Linked DNA regions of Homo sapiens: regions 2, 3 and 4 are each reported to be linked to region 1. Evidence: microRNA targets listed by miRTarBase, many of them from high-throughput screens and not tested one by one. Region 1 holds a microRNA gene; each other region holds the end of a gene's coding sequence.

Region 1 (7,120 bases):
GCACAAATCCCCAACATCATGATGAGGTGGTGGAGAACATCTGTGGACCAGAAGGGGAGGGAGATGGCACTCAGAGACAGTTCTACAAGGGTAAAGCCAACTCAACAGAAGAGTTAACTCAGGGGTCTTCATAAAATTCCACACATTTTAGACAAAGTCGATTTTGTTCATCCCTTGGGGATTCTGTAGCTCACATTTATCAGTACAAAGAACCTGACAGATAAACCTAGGTTGTGGACCTCTGACAAATAGAAATCAGTGATGGTGCATGGTACTCTAGGGCTTTCAGTGTAGAACTTAAAAACGATGAGAATCTAGGATTGGAATTTTAAAAGTTGATTTACATGATTCTCCTGTAATGATGAGAGCAAAATCTGTCTGTGAGATTATTAATAAGTGAACTGTCTTACCCCATCTCCTCATGTAGTTGCTTCCTTCTTATCATTCAGGTGAGATCTTGGGTCTTAGCTGAAATGTTTCTTCCTCTAAGGGGCTTCCCTGGCTGCTCTCTAAATCACGTCCCCCATTGAACCCCAAATACTCTACACATATTGGCAAGGGAAGGGGCCTTGTCTGTCTTGTTCACGGCAGTAGCCACAAGACCAGTTCCCAGTACAGTCATCATAATCATGGCTGACCCTGACTGGGTGTTTGCTGTTTGCTGGGCATTGTTCAGTGCCCTTAGCTGTAATTAAATATCTATACCACAGCCATGTAGATAGGGGCAATTATTAGCCCAATTTCACAGAGGAAACTAGGGTATGGAGGAGGGGTGAGGTCATTGCCCAAGGTCACTCAGTTAATAAAAGACAGAGCCATAACAAGAATTCAAATATTTGTTGAATGAACAGATCACTGAAAATCTTGTTCTGTAAATGTTGGAATCCAAGGGAAGCCATCTGGGGATGGCTTTACTAAGACTTGGGGAAGTGAGGTCCAGTTCTGCTTCATCCGATTTACCTTCGGTTCCTCCCTCTCTTCAGAGTTCAGGGGCTGGTCAGAGGGAGACCTCTTGATCTCGCCCCCTCTGCGCCACTCAGGTGTGCTTTAAAGTATAATTTTCAATCCTTAAAAGTTTTGCCGGGGCCAAAGTTAAGCTTCTCTTAAAACACTCTCTGCCTTTTAACAGCATAGCCCCACGAAATCCCAGAAGTGTCTCTTTTCCTTACCTGAGAAGCTATAGAGACTGGAAAATCCCCTGCCTGTAGTGAGTAAAGAGAGAATGCAGAAAGTTTAAGAAAAGATCATGGAAAGGAGAAGTCTCAGAGTGATGTTTCTACAACACAAAACCTGGCTGGGGGCTGCGGCTCACACTTGTAATCCCAGCACTTTGGGAGGCCCAGGTGGGCGGGTCACTTGAGGTTGGGAGCTCGAAACCAGCTTGGGCAACATGATGAAACCCTGTCTCTACCAAAAATACAAAAATGAACCAGATGTGGTGGCACGTGCCTGTAATCCCAGCTACTCAGGAGGCTGAGTCAGGAGAATTGCTTGAAGCTGAGATCACGTCATTGCACTCCAACCTGGGCGACACGGTCTCAAAAAAATAAATATAAATAAATAAATAAAACACAAAACCTGACCACAATCCTCCCCTGATTAAACCATCAGGTGCTCCATTGCCTTTCAGACAGTTTATACTGGGGGTTTACAAAGTTTCATCTCACAACGCTTTCTCTCCAAAGCAGGGGTTGGTAAGCTTTCTGAAAAGAAAAAAGTAAATAGTACATTTTGTCAGCTTTGCAGGCCATCCCATCTCTGCTACCACAAATCCACCTGTAGTTGCAGTGCACTGCTGTAGACAATATCTACATGAACGAGTGTTGCTGTGTTCTAATAAAACTTTCTTTAAAGGCACTGAAATTTGAATTTCATATAATTTTTTTTTTTTTTTTGAGACAGAGTTTCACTCTTGTTGCCCAGGCTAGAGTGTAGTAGCGTGATCTCTGCTCACTGCAACCTCTGCCTCCCAGGTTCAAGTGATTCTCTGGCCTCAGCCTCCCAAGTACTGGGACTACAAGTGTGCACCACCACTCCCGGATAATTTTTGTATTCTAGTAGGGACAGGGCCAGGCTGGTCTCGAACTCCTGACCTCAGGTGATCTGCCCGCCTTGGCCTCCCAAAGTGCTGGAATTAGAGGCATGAGCCACCATGCCTGGCCCTGAATTTCACGTAATTTCTACATGTCACGAAATATTGTTGTTTTGATTCTTTTTTTGAACCACATAAAAACGTGAAAACTGTTCTTAATTCCCAGGCCACAAAACCAGGTGGCACCTGGGCCTTGGCCCTTGGCCATAGCTTGGTGACTGTCCTCTAAGATAGAGCCGCTACAGCTTCCCGCCTTCCCACAGGTTTTGCCCACCCTTCATGTCACACTATCCTTCAGGTCTCACTTGGAGATTGTCAGCAGAGCTCTTCTGCAAGCCCTGTACTAGGTTGAATCCCTTTGCTCCATTCAGGATGAATATCCCTTATCCAAAATGCTTGGGACCAGAAGTGTTTCAGATTTCAGATTTTTTTTTGGATTTTGGAATCTTTGCATTATACTAGTTGAGCATCCCTAACTGGAAAACCTGGAATCTGAAATCTAAAATGCTACAATGAGCATTTCCTGTGAGCATGACCTTTGAGCATCATGTGGGTGCTCAAAAAGTTTCAGATTTGGGAGCATTCGGATTTTGGATTTTCACATTAGTGATGATCAACTGTGCAACCATGGCACCAGCCCACTGTCACCCTCCTTAACAGTAATTTCTCTTTCCCTTAGTGTCTAACATCTCTCTCCTTGCTAGACAGTAAATCCCTTGAGGACAGGGCCTGCTTGGGTCACATTTATTTCTGAAATCCTAGTGCCCTGCCAGGCCAGGCAGTGCTGGATACTCAGTAAAGGTTTTTTGACTTGCACATGACATTCTCATGACATCTCATTTTTCCTTCCTTCCTTCCTTCCTTCTTTCTTTTCTTTTCTTTTTTCTTTCTCTTTCTTTCTTTCTTTCTTTCTTTCTTTCTTTCTTTCTTTTCTTTCTTTCTTTCTTTCTTTCTTTCTTTCTTTCTTTCTTTCTTTCTTTATTTCTTTCTGTCTGTCTGTCTGTCTCTCTTTCTTTCTTCTTTTTCTTTCTTTCTTTTTTTTTTTTTTGAGACGGAGTTTCGCTCTTGTTGCCCAGGCTGGAGTACAATGGCGCGATCTCAGCTCACTGCAACCTCTGCCTCCCAGATTCAAGTGATTCTCCTGCCTTAGCCTCCCGAGTAGTTGGGATTACAGGCGTGCCCCACCAAGCCCAGGTAATTTTGTATTTTTAGTAGAGGTGGGGTTTCACCATGTTGGTCAGGCTGGTCTCAAACTCCTGACCTCAAGTGATCTGCCCACCTCGGCCTCCCAAAGTGCTGGGATTACAGGCGTGAGCCACCGAGCCCGGCCCCATGACATCTCATTTTCTATTATTATTGTTCACTGCATGCTCTGTTTGGAAGCTCAGCACTTCCTGATTCTTTGGGGGTATTTGAATTTAGGGTGCAGTTAGAACTTTCAGAGTAGATAACAAACCTCAACTCCTTCGTTTGGCTTGAGCTGTTCCCCACCCCTGGCTGGAAGACTCCAGGAGCAGGTGAAGGTTGTGCCCACAGGCACGACTGGTTTGGCAATTCAGTAAAAATGCTCAAACCGGCTGTGCCTGTGGACGCAGCCCAGCGTGAACTCAACCGTTTGGAAAACAGAGGAAAACAGAGACGCTTACTCCGCAGGGAGAGCTCCACGACCAGGACTCCCCCGGTCTGGTCTCGCAGGAGGCGCTTCCGTTTATCGCAGGTCTGAAGACCCAGAGAGGCAGACAGGAGAGAAGCGGGGAAGGTGGGATGATGCGTGAGCAAAGGGGAGAAAAGAGAAAGAAAAGATATTTTAAAAAGGTCACAAATGGGGTGGAGTCACAATTCCCCAGTCAACAGAGATGAGTTACCTTTTTAAAAAATAACCCAGAAGACACACTGTTCATCCCTTCTCCAACTTGAATACAAAGAGAAAGCTTTACTTTGTTAACTCTTCAAGCCAGAGGGAATCCTTCTGGAAGAGGTCATTGAGTGTGGAAGGGATTGATCCCATTTCCTTTGATAAGGCTTCTACTTACCACTCTCACCACAATAATTAGAGAAGTGGACACTTGCAATTGTATTCTGGTTCATTTTCTTTTCTTTCTTTTTAAAAATATGGCATTGATACTTATCCTTTGATCAACTGTACAGTGTCTCTCCCCTCCTCTCCCTGGCTCTGCACTCTCTGGTTTCTTTCCCTTTTGCTGTTTGTGCTCATAAAGAACCATTTTCTGGCCAAATGAAACAACAGCAATAGAGATTATGACCTTATTTTTGTTGGTTACTATAGGCTATGTGGATAGCAGCCTCTTTGGAAACACCGAGGTCTCCAGTTGAAAGAGACCAGAAAGGAGAACAGTTTGAGATTTGGCATGTCTAAGTGTCTAAGTGGTGGTTCTCAGGCTTGAGTGAGCACCGGCATGACTGCTGGCTTGTTAAAGCACAGCCTGCCCAGGCCTTCCTCTCACGTGGTCAAATCAGCCATGATCCAGTGTCGGGAATTTCTGCAGCATCTCTCTGAAGTCACAGAGGTGAACCCTCGGGCTGTTCAGTCAAGACTAAAAACACCCACCTTTTGAGTTATTTCCACGGCCTGTCCCTGCCACCTAGACCTTGAATTTCCCTTGCCCTTTTCACTTCTTCCAAGTATTTCCAAGTCTGTTATCACTTTCATTTACCTACACTGCCCTCTGATGAGGGAAGGGCCATCATTACTTAACACACTTTGCTTAAGGATGAGAAAGCAGGTCCCAGCAGGTTAGGCGACACATGCCAGACCATGTGGGTTGTTGGAGGCAGGGCAGATAGGGCCCTGAGCATCTGCCCTCACGAGCATCTGCCCTTATACTCAGTGCCATTTCCTCCAGATGTCCTCAGCACACAGCTGCCCTGGCCTGGTTATGATCTCCCCACTCAAACTCCAGCTCCTCCAATACTGGCACCCTTTAGGTAACATTGTCCTTCTGGAGAGAGGCAGCTCACCACTGGGCAGGAGAGTTTCTCACTGTCGCAGATGAACGTCTCACAGTGTAACCACACCTTGGAGAGTTTGGGGATGTTCTGGAACCGGAAAGCATTGAATTGGAAGGTTGCCCTGTGATCTCTCCCATTCTCATGCACGAGGACGGTTTCATCCGTGGGGCAGCTGAGGCAGATGGGGAAAGAAGAGTGAACTGTCATCTCCTTGAACTCCAGCAAGAGCTGCTGAGCGATTTACACACAAGGCTCCCGAGGTGGTTATATGACCTCTAACCTTCCCAGGCATTTTGATTAGCAGCACCTCACTTGATCTTCACAACTGTGAGGTCAAGTTGATGAGCTAGGAGATGGGTATTACTGTCCTCATTCTATAGACAAGGTACGATGGGAGGGGAGTGACTTATAAGAGTCACACTTTTAGTAAGTTACACCTGTGTCCCAAAGAAAGAAAATCCCTAGGAGATAAGGCCCTCCGAGGACTGGAATATGTCCAGCCCTTGAGGGACATACAAAGTAAGGACAATGGCACCAGGTGCAGCATTGCCCCTGCTGCCACAGCTGCCTAAGCTCAAGTCACACCCAACACATTTCTGTGTGTGAACTGTGAGGTTTTGCATTGAAAATTTGTATTTATGGTATATTATTTAAATTATATATATCTACATAGTTACTTTTGTAAAAATGTGGTCACATTTTTAATATAAGCACAGAAATAATGACTGAAGGATACCGTCTAAATGTTAACACAGGCTGATACAAAGGGATAAAATTATGGGCATTTTTGGTTTTCTTCTTTGTATTTTTATGTATTCTTCCAAATTCTCTATAATGAGAATACAATATTTGTATGATATTCCAACGTCTCAAAGGTAATAATTCAGTTTAAAAAATGACACAGATGGGCATTTATTTAAGCTAGTGGTTCTCGCTTGGTCCACTTTGTGCCCCAGGGGACATTTGGCACTGTGATTGTCCAGGCTGGGGGAAGTGCTGCTGGTATCTAGTGAGTGGGCGGAGACCAGGGCTGCTGCTGAACGTCCTACAGTGCACAGCACAGCCCCCACAGTGGAGAATGGTCCCACCCCAAATGTCAAGGTGCCAACATTGAGAAACCCTAGTTTCAGCAAACATACTTTTTCATTTAACAAAGACTGATGACCTAAGTGCCGTTCCTTTAACTAGGTGTTGGAAACAGACGCAACCATTCTTGGGACTGTACAGAGAAGCCCACACTATTGTGGGGGTTTGTTATCTGCAGGTAGCACGGGGTAGCAGGGTCTGTCGCTCTGCAGGAAAAGGTCTATGTTTCGAAAGCGTCAGACCACTGAATAGCACCATAGCAGGCCCCAGATTAATGCAACTCTGAAGCATCTTTCTTCTTGTATGGTAAACTCGGCACACACGCCAGAGAGCGGTCCAGTTACCCCAGGGAACCTTCATGATGTTCTCTACCCCACCCCTTTTCCCTCAGAAACAGACAACGGGGGGCCAAGCTAAAGGCAGGCACTAAGGAAGTCAAGTGTGAGAGTGAGGGAGTGAAGTGAGGGAATGCTGTACCTTTGTATCTGGACCAGGGGTCAGAGCCGGGTCTGTGTGTGGTGGGCTCTGAACAGTGATGAAACTGTGGCATTTTCCAAGTTGTGAAACAAGACTTCTGTAGGATCATTTTGTCAATAAACACGAGATCCTCGTATGAACTCAAGATGGGAGTTCTTAAAATAGCTCTTTGCAGCCAGAGTGCCCCAGGCATGGTCAGCCAGTGGAAAATAATGTAAGCAGAGCTTTGTCAGGGGGTGGGGAGGAGGCAAAAAATAGGCAGATCTAGATGCCTTGGCACTGCTGCTTCTTGGCACCAGCTGCAGCACCCACACTTCAGTGGCAGCTGCCTCTAGATGGTGGAAGCCCACAGGAGGCTTTTATGCCCTCTCTGCATGAGCCTCCTTTCCCATGTCAGATTGCTCTTTGAGATAAGTATGCTGCTTTTGGGGCATCCATGTGTACAGGGAAATTCCTTATGATATATCTCCTGCCATCTCTCCAGGAACTTTTGCA
Region 2 (7,120 bases), not on the chromosome of region 1:
CCCGGGAGGCTGAGGCATGAGAATTACTTGAACCTGGGAGGTGGAGGTTGCAATAAGCTGAGATTGCACCTCTGCACTTCAGGCTGGGCAACAGAGTGAGACTCTGTCTCAAAAAAAGAAATAAAAATAAAAAGGGGCAAATAGAAAAAAAATACAGAAATTTTATTTATAAAATTGCAAATGAAATTAGATGAAAAACCTTGTTAATGGAAAATGTTTACATTCTCAATTTCTCTCTTTTGTTTAGAACATTACTACTGGATGGAAATCCATTCCGAGTTCCTCGAGCAGCCATATTAATGAAAGGAACAGCTGCTATACTTGAATATTTGAGAGACCGAATTCCTACTTAACATGGAGTTGCTTTATAACCCTTGTCATGTATTATTAACCCTGGTTAATTCTAAGGAGGATGTAACATTTGTTTTAGTATCATCTTAAAAGGTGATTATTGTAATTGATCTTGTAGTTTCCCAGTATCACCTACCTGTTGGTATAATTAGCCTGGGCCATATTCACTGCCAGTAAATATTTTTACATTTTTATTTAAGATTTTTGTAAGGTGTTGTATACATTTGTAATGGTGATAACCACAATGTGTTCATACATTTGTTCTAAATGTTTTGCTTATGATTTATCCTGCTAACTTTCATTTTCTTATAGCAAGCAGTTTTTTCAAAAATGAATTTTTATTTAATGTGGTTCAGTATTATAATAACAAAGCATTTTTGTAGAACTGGTTTTTTTTCTCATTTATTTTTGTATTCCATACAATGTGACCAATTGACTTGAATATGACTAGCCAGTTTCTATGTTTTTGTTAGATATAAAATTAAATCGAATTTTGTTGAATACTGTTCTTTGGCATTTAAAAAATAAGACCTTCTTATCTTGGGCCACATGTCAAAAGAAAAAGGAAACAAAAATATATTAAAAATAAGACTTTTCATTACCCATGATAGGACTTTTGTGATATGGCTAATCTCAGTACACATTTCAACTTAAAACCTTTTTATTTACAGCACCATAATTTTAAAATTTACTTGCAATCTTGGTAAGACTAAACTTGCAGTGTTTTTCTAAAAGGGAATTTGATAGGTAAACTTGATTTAATAAAAATTAAATATCATTTTTGTTTACACCAAAATTATCAGAAGTAGGTTGATTAGTCATTATAACACTTACCATATGATTCTATTAAGAAGTCAATTCAGTAGCATGTATATCAATTTATATAGATAGGTAGATAGCTTTTGGATGATTGAGGCATGCTTATATTATGAAAAAAATTGCTAATAAAGATAAATACTACATGTTCAGAATAAAAGTTACATTTTTCAAATATTGATTACAATGTTTATGTTTTCATTTTAAAAAAAACATGCCTTTTTGGCTGGGGGCAGTGGCTTACGCCTGTAATCCCAACACTTCGGGAGGCTGAGGCGGGCAGATCACTTGAGGTCAGGAGTTCAAGACCAGCCTGGCTAACATGGTGAAACCCCCGTCTCTACTAAAAATACAAAAAACAAAACCAAAAAAAACTATCCGGGCATGGTGCATGTGCCTGTAATCTCAGCATCTTGGGAGGCTGAGGCAGGAGAATCACTTGAACCCAGGAGGCAGAGGATGACAGAGTGCTGAGATCGCGCCACTCTGTACTCCAGCCTTGGGTAAGAGTGAAACTCCTCCATCTCAAAAAAATAAAAAATAAAAACAAAAACATGCCTTTTTCTTATTACATCTCTGTTGCTGACTACGAGGTCTGCTTTGATAGTAAACAAAAGACACTTTACAATAAGGTGACATTTTATTATTTATACAATAAGGAGACTTTTATGTTATTCAAAACACTTTTTTAAATACTGAAAAAGTTGAGTACACCAAAGCCGAAAAATGGCTCTGCTATACACTGCACAGCATTATTTTAGTCCCTGTATTTTGTATCTGTACAGAAAGCATCTTCAAAATGCATTCTAATCACATTGTACACCTTTACCAATTAGTGTCAGTACATAAAATAAAACTGGAGAATACAGCTTGCATTTGCAAATTAACTGACAGTAATTAATTTCACTGGTTCAGTAAATTTAAAATATAGATTCATAGGACTTCTTTGCACATAAAATGAAGCAGCTTTCAAGGTTGTTATGGTCTCATACTGCAAAAAAACCAGTAAGTACATTCACGATCTATGTTAATAAAGTAGTAAATATGTCTTCATTCAGTTTTATTTACATCAATATGTAGTTCAACTAAAAAGTACTTTTAATTGTGATATAGTAGTCTTTTTAACACATACAAAAATGACAATTTTTTATATATAATTTAAGCTCAAAATCACAATTATCTCAAAATATTAATTACAATACAGCCATTTCAGTTAAACATGTTGTGATTTGATTTTTTTTATAAAATGGTAAAATTGTATTATTAAAGTAAGCAATTTGTTTTGAATTGGCTAGAGTACACCCAAGTAGAAAACCTTAAATGTGAAGAGGTGTTTCCTGCCCCCTCCCACCCGAATTTGTATACAGCCACCTAGGCTAGCAAAGAGACAGAAAAGGCCCCAATTTATAAAGATTAAGCCTCTTTTGCTATACTGCTGTGGCTTGTTGGTTCTTCCATAAAAGCTTTACAAGGGTAGTGTCAATAAACTATGCAGTGAAATGCATGCATTAATATACAATATGTCTATGTAAAATGTCAATGTTTACTATTGCACATTAAAAGGTTCACAAAGACTGCAAAAGAAGTCATAAAGAAGCACTTTCTTTACCAGTCGAATATTGTAAATTTGAAAACGACTTGATAATATAATGGGATTTCTTTGAAATCAGATCCCAATTCAAGTTCTTTCTCTGGCTAAAGGAGCTCTGGTTACTTGGCCTTAAGATGTCACTGTTGTGCTGCACATATGGTAGTGAAGTCAGAGATCATTAAAAAAAAAAAAAAAGTCTAGAGACTCTTCATTTTACTAAAATAGCGACCCAAAGTTGTATCACTGCTTAGGAATTTTTCTTAAACTTACAGAAGAGTGAAATATTTCACTAACTGAATTATATGAGCTGAAATGAGAAAAAGAAAATTTATGTGTGTGTGTTTGGCATATGGGAAAATACAAATTCATATAGGTAGAAGTAGAACTTCTTTATAGAGTAGTAAAAGGATTATGCCCCAAAATAACTGAGGTCAAAAGTAATCAATTATGAAATCGTTTAGGAAAAAATAATTTTCATAGATACTTAGAAAACATCCAAAACATAATATCTAGTATCCTTTTACATATAATTCTTAACAAACCATCTGAAAACCTACCACTGTCTTCCTTCAGAATTGCTTATGTTAGTTTAATATTTCTTTTTTGAATAGAAAGACCCTAGTTCATGTTATGGTTTTCTTATATATAGCTGGTTGGGGGAGCCCTTGGGCAGTTATAAAGTGGAAAAAATAAAACTGTATTATTACTTTCAATAAGCAACAGTAATCTTGCAGTAGTTTCACTTTTTTCAAGGTCTTTTGTGGTGGTCTTTAAAATTTACAAACAGAATTTGGTAGATTTACTTCTAATTTTCCACTAGTAAAAAATTTCTTCTTCATATGAAGACAATGTCATTATCCTTAAGCTTCCTTTAGTCCCTACTGAGTACAAAGAGAAACTTGATTGGCTCTTCAAACAAAAACTATCTGTTTATCTGTCAATTACCTTTCTCTTCATTTCAAACAGAAAATAGGCTTGTGTTTTCAAGGATGAAAGTGTATTTGAGGATGTTAAAGAGAAATGCCCAAACATTATAAAGCCGAAGTATTAAGCATTCATTGCATTCCACTGACGCTAGGTGTCATCAAAGCTAAAACCAAATTTTCTAGAGTAAAACTTACATACAACAGTCCTTACTGACCTGAACCAGATGCCTTTTCCACATTCAAGCCAAATAAGAGTCCTCTGAGTGGAAAGACTACAAGTATTGAAAATAAAAATTATTTCAACAATATATTCTGAAAATTAATGACCTTTCTAGCAGATATGGGAGCTGCTTTATGTTGTCTGCCTGAGAGTTTCATCTTGCTTTTCCTATGGACCGTCCAAAAATATTACATAAGATTTCCTGACTAAATAAGAAATATTCTTTAGTAGAGGGTTGGGGAAGGGTAAGAGGAATGGAGAGATACAAAGAAATACAATGTGATTTCTTTTGTCCATTTGTCAAATGCTTTCGTTAAGCTATTAAAAAGGTCAATTGACCTGCATACCTGGGCATTATTTAACCTCATTATTTTAGCTGTGCAAAACAAATGTGCAAAGAAAAACACCTCCTATTTATGTGTGCCTATACATAGACACAAAACCTGAGTCACCATAAAAGTTTTCAATATAAGAAACCTTTTCTTAATATAGGAAAATAACCTTTAAAGAGCCAAAAATATCTTTGTACAATATAAGCAGCTAACTTTAAAACTTCAGTGTACTTAAGTATCACATATTTTATAAGATCCAGCAAAAAAGGGATCATTTACATTTGATAATTTTCTTAACTATAGCTGAGATAACCACATTTTAATTTCTAACATGTATTTTCATTCCCCTGAATTCATTGATTTTTTTTTTAAAGCACATTCAAATAAGTCCTGTTTAATTTCTGACAAACAGTTCCTGCTTGTTTCTAGATATTGAGGACATAGGAGATTTAGGATTGCTAGGCCTATAATTTAGTGCCAAGCCACAATGGAATTCCAAAGTTCAAAACAAAATATATCATTTTATTAAGAGAAACATTATTTGCAAAAGTATTTGTAGACAGAGTTGGGCCAAAGTCTGCATGAAGCTATTGTCTCATTTGCAGGCTCCCTTTCTACTGACTTAACTCTTAAAAACCCTTTCTTTCTCCATGCTCCATTTCCTTATTTTTCAGTAGGCTTCATACCCTTTTCGTACCTGAACCCTGAATTGTCCCAACTGAATGAAGCTCCCTTGCTCATTTGCAGCCACCAGTTAACAATGTCCTCTTATCTACATCTTTTGTTATCTCTTCCTCTTTATGAGCTTAGAACTCTGGGATGACTCCTTGGCCTCTCCTCCTGTGCCACTTAACTACTCATTAGAGGAAAATCTGCTTGAGTGTTCCATTGCCTTATTAGTCACTGATTTAAGGCTCAATTCAGGACATACTTATTCCCTGGGCTACACCTCAGTTGCGAACTGAGGAAAGTTGTTTATAGAAAAATGACTGAAAGTTGCTTCTCGATGCTGCTCCCAGTGGTCCTTGTCATTAATTATGCATTTATGTCAGTTAAGTCACTGACACTTAGGGAGAAGGGAAAGCCATCTGAACCAAAATATTCAGTCTTTGTGGCTGTGATTGGATAGGAGGGCCTTTGAATACTTGTATCAGTAAAGAGATACTGGGCAGGGCCCTTGAATGCTTTTTTTCTCAAGCCTGGTTTGGGAATAAGGTGGAAAATGCATGCAAGAGAGTAAAGGATTAGAGGCATTAGCCAAGGGAACTGTAGTCAATTCCTGACTTTTTATATTATACTTGCCTGAGGATCACCAGAAGGATTTTGTCTTGTGCAGAAGGCTAAAAGCAGAGTCATACTTTCTCTGCCAACAGACTTGTTGCCATGGGAACCAGTGCAGAAAAATGAAAATATGACAAGAAGCCAAGGATTAAATGTAGAAAATTGATAGGGAGTTGATTTCTACATGGCAATTTAAGCATTGAGGATTTAAAGAAACAGGATGTTCCTTATGTGGCCAGATCAATGAAAATGGACAAAATGACTTACCAGTAGCTGGTCCTAGGGGGCTGAGGTGTGGAAAATGGAAGGAGAAAGTAGTAAGCGTGCTGTAGTTTGGATAAGGGGAACTTTGTAAAATCTAATTCCACTCCTGATGAGGTTAAGCTTGCAGCCCAATGTTAAAATTAACTGTAGGATCAAATATACCCTTTGGAAAGGCATGCCCATGCTTAGCTTGATAAAAGCAGCCTGATGTAACAATTTTCTTTTCACCTTTCCAAAACCAGCACATACTACTCGACAAGATTATTGCACATCTAGTTTATTATTGCTTGATGTATCTTTTCAATTACTCCAACACACAAAAAAACGAAAAAACCCACCATTTGCAAATCTATGCCTCCCTTCCCCCAATAAGGCAGCTATTGTAAGTACCCTAGAATTAAGTTTCTCATTAAGGAAATAATTATTTTACTTCATGTGATACAAGTCCTCCCTGTGTACCCTTCTCTGTCATTCAGTACTTAATAATAAACTGATCAAACCAGACTGTAGGAGTCCAGGAAAACCTTTAACAAGGATTTGGAGTTTCAGCATAATCTGAGAAGGACCTACATGTTGTATTTTCAAAGGCTCTAAGGAGACTGTACCTGCCGTGTCTCCGAAGCTTTCCTGAAAACCTACAATTAATGTCTCATTCCTATGACTTCAGCTTTGGCCTATTTTGAAATGCAGTTGCTCTAAGGAGATGTAGGAAGGTCACCCTGTAAAGGATTTGATTTAACCCTTCCTGCAGAGCTAGTTTTCAAATAGTAATGGCACACTTCACCTGATGTCCTCTTCTTCCCTCACCCACAAAGGAAAAACTAAAAACATAACGTCCACCTGGGCAATGGGTAGGGCTAGAGGCCAGGAAGTAGGAGACAAGCCATTATAGCATAGTTGTCTTTAGGGTACATCTGAATCCAAATGGTCTGAATAAAATATGCTCTTTGTGCAGTGTTACGTACACTGGACAGATTTCACTAGACATGCTTGTTTTCTTTCTCACTTATGACTTCTGGATCTATTTGTTAGAGTTCATTACTGAAGCCTTTGACAATCTCAATGAGTTCTTGAAATGTCAAAAGCTCGTTAATTTCCTTTATCCCAAGAGTACTTAATTCTGAATCTGAATTCTGAAATCCAATAAAACGCCTGAATGTTCTATCACTTGCTGTTTGATAGTACATGCAGGACCCTAAACAGAGGTTTGAATACTGAGATACTGCTGACACAGAATTCCTTATATCAATATTCTAGTGACTTTTAGGATTGGAGACTTGTGGGCTTGGTTTTTGCAGTAGGAAGCATTAGAATAACCTGATGCAGGACTAATTGAAGC
Region 3 (7,120 bases), not on the chromosome of region 1:
CTTGTATTATGTCAAGCAATACTAGTAGGTCAAAAATAGGATTTTGAACACATTGTTTATAGGTCAATATTGTGAACATCTGGGACAAAGTTTCACTGAGTTTGGTCCAGGAACTTGCACTTGTTAACAAGCACCTCAAAAGATTTTTATGTATGATAAAACTTGAGAACCACTGACCTAAGAAAAATATAGATGATTTTCATAACATTACATTGAAGAAAGTAAAAGCAAAGGGGAGGTGTTAGAATAAAATACTTTTTTACTATAAAGAGGTGTTCTTGCCTGTTTAAAAAAAAAAAACAACTATTATTTTAGCTTAGCAAAAGTTAGCACTCTATTATTTAGAAAACCAGAATTGTAGACCAGAATTAGGCTTTTTTCAAATGAATACAGAATTACCCACAGCCTCAACAAAATTGTCATTTTGTTGTAACTGTGGTAGTTCTTGTTTTTCCATTGAAGTTTTATTGATCTGTAGCTTTAAAAAGTATAATGTGTCAGTTAAAAATACCCTAAAGATATGTAATTTTGCTTGTTTTTGCTTTAGAATATCTGTAATTAAGAATTCTTAACATCAAAAATGTTTTCATTGTTCTTAAGCTGGTGGCAGATTAGGAGAAAGCAGGAAAATTTCTTCATGGGAATACTGGACCAGTATTAACTAGCACAGCTTTATGCTTTTTCCAACCATCTGTCACCTTTGGAAACAGTATATCAGATGAAGTGCAGTAATGACCATTATGCTGTAAAACATTTAATGTCCTTTTAAAATTTTGTTTATATAGAGCTGGGGCTTTGTGATCATGAAAATTCTCTGTTATACCATGGGTCATTATAATATGAAGGCAAAGAGGGTACTTTGCTTCAATTAGGAGAAACAGTGCACATCTTGCAAAATAGAAGAGACAAACCTTAGAGTGTTTGCTTAGTAATAGCTATTTCAAGACAATTTCTGAACTGTATCTACTGTTTGTTGCTAATGAAAGTTACATATGTTAATAATTTTAGGAATTCGAGAGGAGAAAACAGGAGAGAGAAGAAGCCCAAAGGCAGTACAAAAAGAAGAAAATGGAAGTGTTTAAAATACTGAACAAAAAGACTAAAAAGGGCCAACCAAACTTGAATGTACAAATGGAGTACCTTCTTCAAAAAATACAAGAAAAATGTTAAACATTTTGTTCCTACAGGTTAAAATATCTGCTGCCTATTAGGTTCTTCTGTGACATGTGCCTCCCAGCAGTGAACTAAATTTGTCGACATAAACTGGATTGCTAAACTATGCTAAATATAAGATGTTCACATATTTTTATTATGGTAAAAAATTTTCTAAATATGTTCTACATGTTTCTTATTTATTTGCCTCTGAAGGAAGGTTGGCCTGAAGAACTGAAAGAACCTCTTATTTTGCAAGACAGGCCCAAGCATGTAATACTTTTGTACCATATGAGATTTATATGAAATAAATTTTTTAAAAATAAGGAATCAGAGCTATCAATGAAGCATTTCAATGAAATATTTCAATTTAGTAAACAGTTACGTTGTTTTAAAATTTATTTTAATGATGAGGGAGGCAAAGACTCCTCTTGGACTTTTTATTTATTTTAAGTACATGTTACAGGGTGATGGGTGCTGAAATAAACTGCCCTCACCATATAACAAAGCGACCTTCACAAAGCAGTGAACTCAAAGTCTGATATTTATAAACATTCCCTTAAATGGATGTACATGGCTTGTTAGTCTAAGGTCTTTTAAATAATGATGGAAACCCCACAGTGTCACAGCAAGAATTAAGCTTTCCAGTTCCTATGGACCCTATACTTTAAGAACATTATCTCTGTCTCCCTTGTTGGTACCCTTGTGAGCTGAGATAAGCCACTGGGATAACTGCTTCTCATGCTTTGCAAATTGCAGAAGAATGAGAAAGGCTTGAAATATATATATAGTCATTGTAAGCAAAAAGGGCTGACCAATAATACTTGCCAAATATTGAATAATAAAATTTTATAAATGATAGCAAATACAGTCTGAAATTGCATTAAGATTTTAGGGAGCTCTTTCAGTCTACTAATTTATTCTGCATTTCAAGATCAGTAGAAAGTGCTTAGATAACACTGAACTTAATCTTCATTGCATAGAAAAGCAATGCTTTAGAAATTTGCATTGCACTATATTGCATTTAAAGTAAGCAGCCCAGAAAGCCTAAATTTGGCTACATTGGTGAAGACACATCACATCATGATGGAGGATAAATTATTTCAGTAAATTGCTTTACAATTTTTGTGCATTTTCACTTCTAGACACTTAATCATGACAAAACATGGAAGGAGATCTAGTCCTTTTGAGAGACAAGTGAAAGTCAAATTATATTCATTTTAACGACTTTGTTAAAAGCTACTTTATGCAAAACTTATATTAAGGAGTTACTCTTTAAAATTCCAAAGTTCTTGTAGAGGAATAAATGCCAAGTAATGGTATAATGGGGGAAAAAGTAATCAGTGACAATCAGATAAAGCAAAAGGTTAAGATTTTAGTGTTATCAATGAAGCACCCAGGAAGCTTTTCCTTTTTCGTTTTTTTTTTTTTTATTATCTTGGTGGTGGACAGTCTCCCGCCCACGCTGCAGTGCAGTGGTGTGATCATGGCTCACAGCAGCCTCAAACTCCTGGGCTCAAGTTATCCTGCTCAGCCTCACGAGTAGCTGGGACTACATGTACGTGCCAACACCTGGCTAACATTTTCTGTAGAGATGAGGTCTTGCCAAGTTCAGCCTTGCCTGGGCTGGTTTTGAACTGGCCTCAGGGATCCTTATGGCTCAACCTTGGCCGTACAAAGTGCTGAGATTATAGGTGTGAGCCACTGTGCCTGGCCTATAGGCTTCTTAAGAGGCATGTTTGAGGACCCTACACTAAGGAATTTGGATACTGTAGATGGGCTTAGTAATGGATGTTTTAACAGGCAACCCCAGTGATTCTGCTGGGTTGCTCCTCGCCACACTTAAAAAATGTTGGACCAGGGCCTCAGAGAAGAAAGAGGTTTTGTTTGGTTTAAGAAATCAGAGAAAGTTTCATGTGTGCAATAGCATTTAAGGAAAGCCTTCGAGGTTAAAAAGATTAGAAGTGTAAGAGCATGAGGAAAGTTACAAAGGGAAGCAAGCTTGGTATTATTTAAATATCTAATAAGTAGTTAGAATATATTATTATTGATGGAGGTAATAGTTCCTATCGGTTCCCTATTGTTTCCTTCCATGTGGAGAAGACACCATCATCCAAACACTCATGGTATCTTTACTTCTTGTCCCACTTGTTCCACCCAGGGGAGGTAAAGTAATAAATGATGTCTGGGAGGAGGACCTGGGCTGTCAGCAGAGTGCATGTACTCTTAATTGCTATTCTAATACTATAAGTGAAGAACAGGCTATATTGATAAATGTTAGAAGGGGGATGGATATTTTTGGAAAATATATATAGAAATTTGTGCTATATGGGTTAGTACATCAAGAAATAAAAGAGGAATAAAATTTGAAGGAGCACAACATAGAAAGAGAGAGGCTTAATTGTGGCCATAGCTTATGGTTTCTGGTTTCAGACCTTAATGTATACGTAGGGAGCTTTGATCTTGGTAGTTTGTAGAGGCTTCTATTAGGGCTATTAATTTGACTTTGTAAGTGTGAAGTAGGCTTTTAGTTGCAGTTTTGGCAAGAGGCTTTAAGACTTAAGGCACGTGGGATTTTGACCTAAAAGTTTAGGATATCTTTGTCCAGAGAAATTGGTAATTTCTATAGAGACAATGTGCAATACTGGGCTTTAAGCACATATGCGCAGGCCTCAATGAAGCAGAGTTTGAGTGAGGGTGATGGAGACATATTGGCTTCAGCAAAGACAGAGAATCTGGAAGTGGGGCTCACCCAAATGCTGGCCTCATGGATGTCCTCACCAGATGCCAGCCCAAGGTGAGGCTTAGCAAGCTACTGTAGTGGTGCTGGCATCAACAAAGGCACTGGCATGTGCAAGTGGTCTCATGCAGGCTACTGCAGCTTGACCTTGGCCTACATTAAATATGCATGTGTGAGCAGCAAAGGCCTCACTCATCAGATGCTGCTAACTCGACACCAGAAAACAATTTTATTCGTGGCAAGGATTTAATGATATAAGAAGAAATATTCATAGCTATGCTAGATGTTAATGACTGTATCAGTATTTGCTACTTTTAAAGACATGTGCCTTGGTTGCAATATAAAGTTCTAGAAAAGCTCAAGGTCTAAATTGTTCTGAGAGTCATTGAAATGCTGTGTAAAAGAGAAAATTTTGAATCTGAAGATATTTGAACATACTGGGAAAAGATCAGGTCTCCTTTGACTTGGTGATTGGGACTGGACCACTCCAAATTCTATACTTGGTAAGATAGCATCAGTGTTTCAGATGTCACTTTCTGAAAGAGAAGATAGAGTACCATGCTAAATGCATGGTGAAAAGTTTAACTTGTTGCTGACAAATTTCTTCCAACTTAGTTTAAGTGTGCAGCTCATGTGACTGGCATTCTGATAAGGCTAAAGCCATCACCGGTTATCTTCCTTCCTACTGATTCATGAGTTCCTGCTATAGAGTTTCTGCTACATGTAGTCTTTGGCAATAAATACTACTGAGTTTTGGGAGCATAATTTTGTACAGGATAACTGCCTTTTAAATTTGGTGGGTATAAGGCAAGTATTGTAATTACCTTGGGTGTTTTATTGACTCTCCAGACCTTTTGTAAGTTGAGGCACACCATAGAGTTATTGAACTAATTTAACTTCTGAAGTGCCAAATGAATGTGTTGTATCCATATCCAAAAAGAGACAGCCAGGCTGCAGCTGCTGAAGGAATCCTGAGAGGCATTAAGAACATTTCTGCCTGTGAGTGAATCCAATAAGAAACTGGGAAGGGCTTTAATTTTATTGAACTTTTACCTTATTACAGTGAGAGAATTTGATTCTGGGTTTTGATTATTTTGGTCTTTGGACATTAACTTGAAAGGTAACTTAATATGTAGACTTAATTTTCTCCCCAGGAGTTTGATAAGAGGAAAGATTTATACTGAAAGGTGGGACATCTGCATTTTGCTGGCAAATTAACATTGGGTGCTTTTTATGTATTTGGATAATTCCCATTGAGAACACTTGATTGAATCACCCATGGAGCTGATAGAGAGCCCTGTGGTGGAAATGCTACTTATGGGCCTGATGACCTTGGGTTTTACAAAAAGATTTATTGAGGTATAATTGACTGAGCATACATAAAATGTTCAATTTGGTGACTCTTGACACTTGCATATGCTCATGAAACCATCACGGCAATCAACTACCTATCACCATCACTTCCTAACGTTTCCTCATGGCCTGTTGTAGTCAATCCCAGGCAGCCACTAATCTGCTCTGTCACTAGTATGCATTTTCAAAATTTTTATATAATCAGGATCATATACTATAAACTTTTTTGTCTGGGCCTCTTTAAGTCAGCATAATTATTTGGAGATTCATCCATGTTGTTGGATTTATCAAAAGTTTGCTCCTTTGTATTGCTGAGTGTTCTATTGTATGGACATAGACAATTTGTTTATCCATTCACCTGCTGATAGGCATGATAGGCATTCTTTTTTTTTTTTTTGAGACTCAGTCTCACTCTGTTGCTCAGGCTGGAGTGCACCAGTGCATTCTCAGCTCACTGCAACCTCCACTGCCTGGGTTCATATGATTCTCCTTCCTCAGCCTCTCAAGTAGCTGAGATTACAGACGCATGCTACCACACCTGACTAATTTTTGTATTTTTAGTGGAGACAGGGTTTTGTGACGTTGACCAGGCTGGTCACGAACTCCTGACCTCAAGTGATTAGCCCTCCTTGGCCTCCCAAAGTGCTGGAATTACAGGTGTGACCCACCACTCCTGGCCTGGCTCTTAAAAATAAAGCTATTATGAACATTTGTATATAAGTCTTCTACGGGCATACACTTTAATTTCTGTTAGGTAACTACCTAGGAGTAGAATGACTGAGACACATGGTAGTTAGTATTTAACATTTTTGGGAAATATGACACCTGTAAAATGACTGGGTACTGGAAAAGGAGCTTCCTGGTAAAACGGATAAGGAGCCTATGAAGTCAAATTAGTGGTCCAACAATGACACTCCTCTAAGGACCTCAGTAACACCCCATTGTCTGCTCTGTGTTTTATCTATTTGCAGGGTCGGCCTTCCAGTTCCTAGAGGATATGCATGCTGTATTTTCTACCTTAAATTTCACCACTTTATCTCAGTCTGTTCTTCAGAGAACAAATAAAATAACTGGGGAGGATGTCTCCAGCAAACACTGATAGGCTATGATTTTACCAGACTTGTAACTTTTCCCAGTTTCAGTTGTGTGAAACTAACTACAACTAACTTATTGCTCCAACTAAATTATTGCCACTCACTCTGTAATGGTGTTATGGAATTAAAGTACACCAGAAGGCAGCACATTGGAACAACCCAAATTACAGCAGATCCTTTGCATCTGTTGGACTCTCCTGGTGCACTGTTAGATCAGACTACTTCTAGTCTTCAGGCTAAAGATTCTACTGATGAGAGAAATATTTGCAATTGACCAAGTAAGGTTCAAATAAATCCTTATAACCCCCCACCAACGTCATTCCAATATCTACACAAACCTGAAGAAATCACAGGAATAAAATCTATTATTGAGTCTTTATAAGAATAAGGACAGCCATATCTCATCCTTGCAATCTTCCCATATAGCCGTTTAAGAAGCCTATCAAGAAAGGATACCCATTTATTCAAGAACTCAGGGTAAGCAATAAAATTATGATTTCTAGATTCCTGGTAGTTTCCAATAGGAACCTGTCTTGTCATCCAATTGCTGAAGAAGTAAATATTTATTTCATAGTGGTAGATGTATGTGCAGCATTCTTTAGTACACATGTAGATACAGTTAACATTTGTTCACTGTTTTTGTGGGAAAATTAACAGCATATGTGGCTATATACCATAGTTGCTCCACCCCCCACCCAACCCTCTGCATCCCTGGTTTTGCTTTTCAAAGTTTCAGTTACGTGTGGCCAACTGCAATCCAAAAATATTAAATGGAAAATTC
Region 4 (7,120 bases), not on the chromosome of region 1:
AAGGGAGCAACAGACCCCAGACCCCATGAGAGCAGGTTGGTCTCTGTCCCTGCAGGATGTGAGGTCTAGGCCTGGGTAGGTGGGGAGGAAGCTGTGGACACCGTGGTCCTCTGACCCGGGCTCTTCTCCGCCTGTCCAGGGGATGTCTTCCAGAAGCCCTACGTGTCTGGGGAGGCCGATGCAGCTTCCCGGGCGCTGACGGGCTCCGAGGACTACCTGCTGCTTGCCTGTGATGGCTTCTTTGACGTCGTACCCCACCAGGAAGTTGTTGGCCTGGTCCAGAGCCACCTGACCAGGCAGCAGGGCAGCGGGCTCCGTGTCGCCGAGGAGCTGGTGGCTGCGGCCCGGGAGCGGGGCTCCCACGACAACATCACGGTCATGGTGGTCTTCCTCAGGGACCCCCAAGAGCTGCTGGAGGGCGGGAACCAGGGAGAAGGGGACCCCCAGGCAGAAGGGAGGAGGCAGGACTTGCCCTCCAGCCTTCCAGAACCTGAGACCCAGGCTCCACCAAGAAGCTAGGTGGTTTCCAGGCCCCTGCCCTCCCCTTCCTCCCATCCTTGTCCTTCTCTCCCTCAGAAGCCTCAGGACCCAACAGGTGGCAGGCAGTGGACAGGGTGCCCGCCCCACAGTGCTTTCCCCAGCACCCCAGAGCCAGTCGGGACACCCCCCGCAGCCCGTCCTGGTGGCTGTGGAACTGCACTGGGTGGCGGGCAGATGGTGGAAGGCAGCTTAGGAGACCTCACCAAAGAGAAGATGGACCGGCTCTTGCTCCCAGCTCCTATTAGGCCCGGGGTGGGACCAGAGGTCATAGGTGCCCAACGGCAGCCAAACCAAAGACACTGGTGTGCATGGGGCAGCATGGTTGTGCACGTGGGACCCTGGGGCGGACCCAGGAGCCAAACTCTTGAAGCACCCCCTGGGTCAGGCCCAGCAGCGGAGTGGCCAGCCCCAGTTTCCCATTGCTCCTCTCTGCGGCCAGGGCCAGGTGGGTTCATATTTACAGATATGCCCAGCCAGTCCTGGTCGGCCACACCAGTGTCCCAAAGAGGAGAGCGCAGCAGAGCCAGGGGTCTGTTCTGTAGCAGCCACCCCCCTGCCCCCACTCCAGGGCAGCCATGATGTGCTTGGGCCCACCAGGGCCTTCCGGGCTGCTCTCTTCCCTGAGCCCGGAACCGGCGACGCACATGTGTCTTTTGTTGGTGTGTTTGTTTTTTTCCAGGGAGGTCTAATTCCGAAGCAGTATTCCAGGTTTTCTCTTTGTTTTATCAGTGCCAAGATGACCTGTTGTGTCATATAATTTAAGCAGAGCTTAGCATTTATTTTATTCTTTAGAAAACTTAAGTATTTACTTTTTTAAAGCTATTTTTCAAGGAACCTTTTTTTGCAGTATTATTGAATTTATTTTCTAAATCAGGATTGAAACAGGAACTTTTCCAGGTGGTGTTAATAAGCCATTCAAGTGCCTTACACAGCTTTGAAGAAACTAGGACTGCAGTGGGCTCGGATAGGCCCATTGAGGTTTTTAGAAAAGCAGGATTTGTTTTGTTAGGGAGGCATGATTTTGGTGAGATCTTTCTGGAAGAGTTTTCCGCCTCTTTGTGATGCTGAACACCCCCAAGGTTCTCCCCTCCCCCCGCTGCCCAGGTGACTGGCAGGAGCTGCGACTGCCACGTAGTGGTGCCTGGGCCCGACAGCGGGGCTCTGGGCATCCCGGGTGACCTTGGCCCATCTGCCTGCATTCCCACCCCCTTGGGCCTGGCTGGATCCCAGGCAGAGGGACCTTGCTGCTGTGTGATTGGAACATTCCCAAATATCTTGTGAATTTGTAATCAAATTGGTCTCATTGGGAAAGACTCTTAATTAAGAGGCTCAGGCAAGCACAGAGGCAGCCCGTGGGTCTCTGTCTCAGTCTGGAGGCAGCAGGGATGCTGCTGGGAGTCCATGGCACAGGCCACAGCCCCTCACCTTGCCGCGGTGGCTGGCAGCACGCCTGCCTTGCTCTGCCCCATGCCCTGAACAGGCATGAGAGCTCCACGTCCCCTAGTGCACCCTGAGAGGGGGCTCACAAGTGACCGATCCTGGGTGCCTCAGGGAGCTCACTGAGGGCGTGCAAAGTTGAAAGTGGCAAGGCTGGGGGAGGGTGTCGGGTAGAGGGAAGAGGGCAGGGGGCTAGGGGAGGACTCAGAGGCCATCTGCAGGGCCAAGCCACAGGAAGGGCTGAGCTGGAGGTGGGCAGGGCTGCTCCAGGCAGGTCAGAGCAGTGCAGGGGGAGGAGAGGAGAAAGGGAGGAAGCTGGGCTGTGTGGTCCCCATGAAGGCATTCAGAGTCCACCTGCAGACAGCGAGAGCCCCAGGAAGGTTTGCACAGCTGTGCCCCAAGCACCTTGGCCTCCTCTCAGCTCGCCGAGGAGGCACGCTAGAGCCGCCTTCCCGGTGGGAGCCCTCTGTCCCACAGGGAGCGGGGAGCCAGCTTTGCTGGGGCCCTACCTGCATGCCCAGCCTTACCCCTCATTCTCACAGCACAGATGAGGTTGAGACCATGCAGTCAATGCATTGCTTAAGGTCTCTTATTTACAAAAAAAAACCTTAAACATAGTCGCTGTCATTCAGACATTCAGAGAATGGTTGGCCACAAACAATGACCAAGTATTGCTTGGCTTAACTTGAAGGCCTGCTGTCTCCTTCTGGGGGTCAGGGACGCAGCTCCACCCTCACCACTAGCCCACCCTGCCCGTGGGCATAACCTTGACGAAGAGAGAGAATGATTGGCATCTGCTTTTCTCTTTTCTTTGCTAATAATTCTGTTCCTGGCTGCCGAGAGTGAAGTTTCACCATGTGGAGGTTTGGCTCCTATCACCTGGTGGTCTGATTCATACCCTAGCCTGAGGCTCCACTGGAAGATCTCGCAGCCTCAGTGTATGGGAAACCCTTTCCCCAGGCTTGTCCCAGCACTGCCGCTCCCCACCCCTGAGCCAGGACCCCAGAGGATGGCCATGCCCCGTGCCTGGCAGAGGTCTGGTGCCAGCACTGGGAGCTGCTCCGCCCTTGCCTTGGGGCCGAGGGAGCCCTCGTCCACCCCTGCACAGCAGCTGGGCACAGAGGAGCGCTCTTCCATCTTGACCAGGACTGCACCAAGAAGCACCAGGTGTCTTCAGCCTCCAACCTCCGGGGCGACCTTCTCTTCCAGCCACAGTCCCATGAGGGCCCCTAGCCAGGGACACTGGTCTGTAAATTGTAATCCTTTCTCCAGCCCAGCTCTCCACTTGTTCCTTGTGTGAGCTGAGCAGGCAGTGCACCTCTGAGTGTCCCTTTTGTAAGGCCCAGGGGTTGCACTGAGTCTGCAGAGGCCGCGACCTCCTAGAACGCTGTGGGTGCAGGTGAGCCGGCGTGTCCTGGGGAGATGCTGCCAGCACACAGGGGCCCTCCTGCTGCCAGCAGGTTGGGGTGGTTAAGTCTTATTAGTGTCTATTCTTAAAATTAAGTGGGCTGGAGAAGAATGGAGCTCCACATGCCAGCACCGTATATGGAATACAAAAGCTGGGGAAGCAGGGCCTGCCTTACAGGTGTGGCTGACTCTGAGCCCAGGCCTGCAGGGGTGGAGGGCAGTCCCTCAGAATCCCAGAGGCAGTCCCAGCCTCAGAACCCAGGATAGGAAATGGGTGTGTTTAGTGGGGAAAGGGACGGGGTGCAGACGGCAGGGCCAGTATGGGGCCCCCTCCCTCTCCTCTCCTCTCCTATGGTGAGCCCAGCGTGGGCACCGGGCCGTCTCAGCCGTGTTCCCAGGGCTGGGAGGACAGCTCTGGCCCTTCTTAGGCCTAGCCTCGTCCCAAGCTAAATGTAAGCCAGTTGGGCTGTGTTAAAGGAAGCAGTGTTTTTGGTTCGATTCTGCCTCTGTAGCTCAAGGGGGGCAGCCCCCAGAGTCCTGTGCATTCTGCCAAGGCTCCATAGCTTTGCCAAATGCACGGAGCTCTGCCATTCCGGTGCAGTGCAGGCCTTGCGAAGGGTTTATCTGCGTTCGTCTCGGTGGGCTTCTCCTGCATGGGAGTTGTGTTCCTGTGCAAGGGGGAGCTTTGCTCCAGGACAGGATGACTGTCTTCCCTATTCTTAGGGACAAGTCCCAAGATGCCAGAAAGGCAGTCTCCCAAGGACCCACCATGCAGAAGTGTCAATAAACCACAAGTTCTGAACTCTGTCGCCCGAGTCCTGCCTTCTTCCTGACTTCTGAGCATCTTGTCCCCTTTGATGTCCAGATGTGTTTGGAAGCTGCTTTAATATTGGGGACCATCTGCAAATCTTGCGAAGCGAGCAGACAAATTCTGGAGAGAGCCCTGGTGGCCTACACCCTCCTGGTCTAGCCAGCAACCTGATTTTCCTCCCTGAGGGGCTCTGAGCCCACCCCCACCAGCAGCAGGAAGGTGACAGGAAAGGGATTAAGCCCCTGGGACCTCACATGACATTGGGGAGCCACAGGAGCATTGAGGACCCCTCATTTTATCCAGGAGCCTGATGTGCCCCAGGAGGTTCCATCCTGAGGATGGAGACCCTCTGACATGACGCTCTTGAGGCCCACCATTTATACCCTCCTGGCACCTCCTGAGGCCAGGTGTGGTGGCGCACACCTGTAATCCCAGCACTTTGGGAGGCTGAGGTGGGAGGATCTCTTGCGCTCAGGAGTTTGAGACCAGCCTGGGCAACATAGGGAGACCCCCATCTCTACAGATAATCAAAAAATTAGCCCCAGTATGATGGCACAAGCCTGTAGTCCCAGCTACTTAGGAGGCTGAGGCAGGAGGATCGCTTAAGTTTGAGGAGCTTGAGGCTGCAGTGAGCTAGGATTGCGCCACTGCACTCCATCCTGGGTGACAGAGCAAGACCTTGTCTCAAAAAAAGAACAAAGCACTGAGCCTTTCTTCTGCCCCCTGCTCCCGCCACCCCGCTCCGCCATCCTCGAAGCCTGCATGGCACTTGTCCCACATGGGAGCTCGGCTGCCGCCCAGAAGTGAATCCACTGCAGGTTCACTGCTGGTGCTCCCTGAGGGGCAGGGTTATAGGGGGTTTTTTCCTCCCCCCTTTAGGTTTTCTTCTAAATCCTAATTTTTTTTAGTACGGTGAACATGCTTTAAAAATGCTTTTATGTAATCTGTCATGGGAATTTTAAGGGAAAAAAAAGATAAAAATGCCTTAACAGAAGACCTGGAGAGATCCACCAGCAGCAGGGGTGGGCAGTGCTAAGCCCTGGGGTCCTGGTAGAGAACTAGGAATGGCAGTGGTGGCTGCACTAGGTGGGGGAGCGAGGCTGAGGGGGTGGGGAGCAGCGCTTCGGTGGTGGGCAAGCCTCACTGTTCCTGGTGGAAGGGACTGGCCCCTGATGGCTGCTTGGACAGATATCAGAAACTCACCTCAGGACCACCACACCTGATGGATTTTAGGGAACCCCCCACAAGGCCCGCCCACCTGCCTCCCTTTGCTCTAGACCTGTGGCCCCCAACCACAACCTCCAGTCCAGACCTCTGTAGCCTCACCCACCCAAGGACGGCCAGCAGCAAAATGCAGGGCCTTGGCCCGAGCGTTGCTGCTGGTCGCTTAGCAGGCTGGAGGGCTGGTTCCCCCTGAAGCCCCAGGATAGCACGCACAGGCCCAGTCCCATGTGGCTGCAGCTCCTAGCACACATGAAACTGCTCTTGGAGACGGCTTCAGAGCCTTCTCAGTGCCCTCAGGGGGTCAGTATTGAAGCAGCCAGTCGTGGGACTCTGTCGACCAGTCCTTCAGCGCATGTTGGCCAAGTGTTTGCCACGCTGCTGCAGGTGCTGGGGCAAGGGATGAGCCAGCTACCAATTCCCCACCTAAGACAAAGAGGATTCGGCTTATCACACAGGGGTCAAGTGCCCCTAGGCCGCAAAGCTGCTAAGGGGTCCAAGCCTTGGAAAGTCACCCTTCTCAGAGTCCCCAATTCTTCACTGCCTTTTGATCTTTGGTTCCTTTCTCAATCAAGAGAAAGCAAGGCAGCAGGGGCCGGGAAACTCGCCCTTGTGCTCCTGGCTGAGCTCAGGCTTCAAGGGCACACAAACATCAGAAATGCCTCCCCGCAGACACTGCCCAGCCACGGCCAAAAGTGCTGCCCTGAACTTCTCCGTAGAATGTGGGGGAGGCCCTCAGGCTTGTGGGCGCATGGGAGCAGCTGTCCTAGGGCTGCCTGAGCCCGGTGCCTTCCCCACTCCCACTTTGCCTGCAGGCCTCCTCTCTCCTGTCTGTAGCCTTGTCTGTGCATTTTCTCCTGGTCCTTCCCAAGCCACCTGAGAGAGCTCTCAGTCCCCTCCCCCGGCTCCCGGCAGTGCCTGCTGCCCAGGGCTGCAGCCTCCAACTCTCCAGGACCAGCGCCAGAAAAGCAGCTTTTTTTTTTTTTTTGAGAGAAGTCTTGTTCTGTCTCCAGGCTGGAGTGCAGTGGTGCGATCTTGGCTCACTACAACCTCCACCTCCTGGGTTCAAGCGATTCCCCTGCCTTAGCCTTCTGAGTAGCTGGGACTACGGGTGCACACCACCACGCCCAGCTAATTTTTGTGTAGAGATAGGGTTTCACCATGTTGGCCAGGATGGTCTTGATTTCTTGACCTTGTGATCCACCCGCCTCAGCCTCCCAAAGTACTGGGATTACAGGCGTGAGCAACCGCGCCTAGCCAAAAGACAGCTTTATCTGTGTCCACTGTGTCACAGAGGGGGCATCCTTAGGGAAGCAGGGGAACTAGCCCCGGATGCAAGAGCTGGGACCAGGCCCTGGGCCGCCCACCACACCTACTCAAGCATCCATGTCCTCCTCCCCACACCCCTGCTCCTCTGAAGCTCCCAGCAGGATTTCCTTCCTAAGTATCTGCTGTCTTGACTGTTCTCTGGTGAACTGGCTTATGTGTCTGAAACTCATCTTCACAGCCAGATAGTGGCTCAGTGCTCTCTGTCTGCCCCTCACTTTCACAGAGCTGATCCCGGAGAGCACCCTCTCTCAGGACCTCTGGGTGGGGGGGGGGGAGGCCCAAGGGACTGAGGGTGCACAGGCAGGCAGACGGGCTGGAGCTGCCTGGCACCTACAGGGGGTTCACCCATGGGAGCAGGCCACAGTGTGGCAAGTG

Evidence for each region. The annotated mature microRNA hsa-miR-6715b-5p reads ACAGGCACGACUGGUUUGGCA and lies in region 1 at 3,625-3,645, shown strand. An mRNA with a match to its seed (bases 2 to 7 or 8) in the 3' UTR can be bound and repressed. Matches are read on the target gene's strand: a 7mer-m8 pairs with bases 2 to 8, a 7mer-A1 pairs with bases 2 to 7 and ends in A, and an 8mer does both.
Region 2: the mRNA of LRRC40 is a reported target of hsa-miR-6715b-5p. The part of its 3' UTR that is shown has no 7-base or 8-base seed match.
Region 3: miRTarBase lists CCDC59 as a target of hsa-miR-6715b-5p. The part of its 3' UTR that is shown has no 7-base or 8-base seed match.
Region 4: the mRNA of PPM1F is a reported target of hsa-miR-6715b-5p. Seed matches in the 3' UTR shown: 7mer-m8 at 1,678-1,684 and 7mer-m8 at 3,000-3,006.

Annotation. Positions count from the first base shown.
Region 1 is chr10:112,296,183-112,303,302 of GRCh38, reverse strand. It overlaps MIR6715B (microRNA 6715b), which reads left to right and starts at 3,615; the gene lies at 3,615-3,691. It overlaps TECTB (tectorin beta), which reads right to left. Exons shown (of 11, transcript NM_058222.3): 8 at 5,072-5,234; 9 at 3,739-3,811; 10 at 1,170-1,202; 11 at 1-40. It overlaps MIR6715A (microRNA 6715a), which reads right to left and starts at 3,691; the gene lies at 3,613-3,691. RefSeq lists an enhancer at 638-932.
Region 2 is chr1:70,139,033-70,146,152 of GRCh38, reverse strand. LRRC40 (leucine rich repeat containing 40) reads left to right here. Exons shown (of 15, transcript NM_017768.5): 15 at 248-1,348. The coding sequence ends at 353. It overlaps LRRC7 (leucine rich repeat containing 7), which reads right to left. Exons shown (of 27, transcript NM_001370785.2): 27 at 1,789-7,120. Among named protein-coding and RNA genes, the nearest start is that of LRRC40, 63 kb to the left of the region's middle. RefSeq lists an enhancer at 4,888-5,389.
Region 3 is chr12:82,347,201-82,354,320 of GRCh38, reverse strand. It overlaps CCDC59 (coiled-coil domain containing 59), which reads left to right. Exons shown (of 4, transcript NM_014167.5): 4 at 1,009-2,018. The coding sequence ends at 1,170. Among named protein-coding and RNA genes, the nearest start is that of CCDC59, 7.6 kb to the left of the region's middle.
Region 4 is chr22:21,916,491-21,923,610 of GRCh38, reverse strand. PPM1F (protein phosphatase, Mg2+/Mn2+ dependent 1F) reads left to right here. Exons shown (of 8, transcript NM_014634.4): 8 at 140-4,186. The coding sequence ends at 519. Among named protein-coding and RNA genes, the nearest start is that of PPM1F-AS1, 18 kb to the left of the region's middle. RefSeq lists enhancers at 1,729-2,387, 3,049-3,708, 5,884-6,694.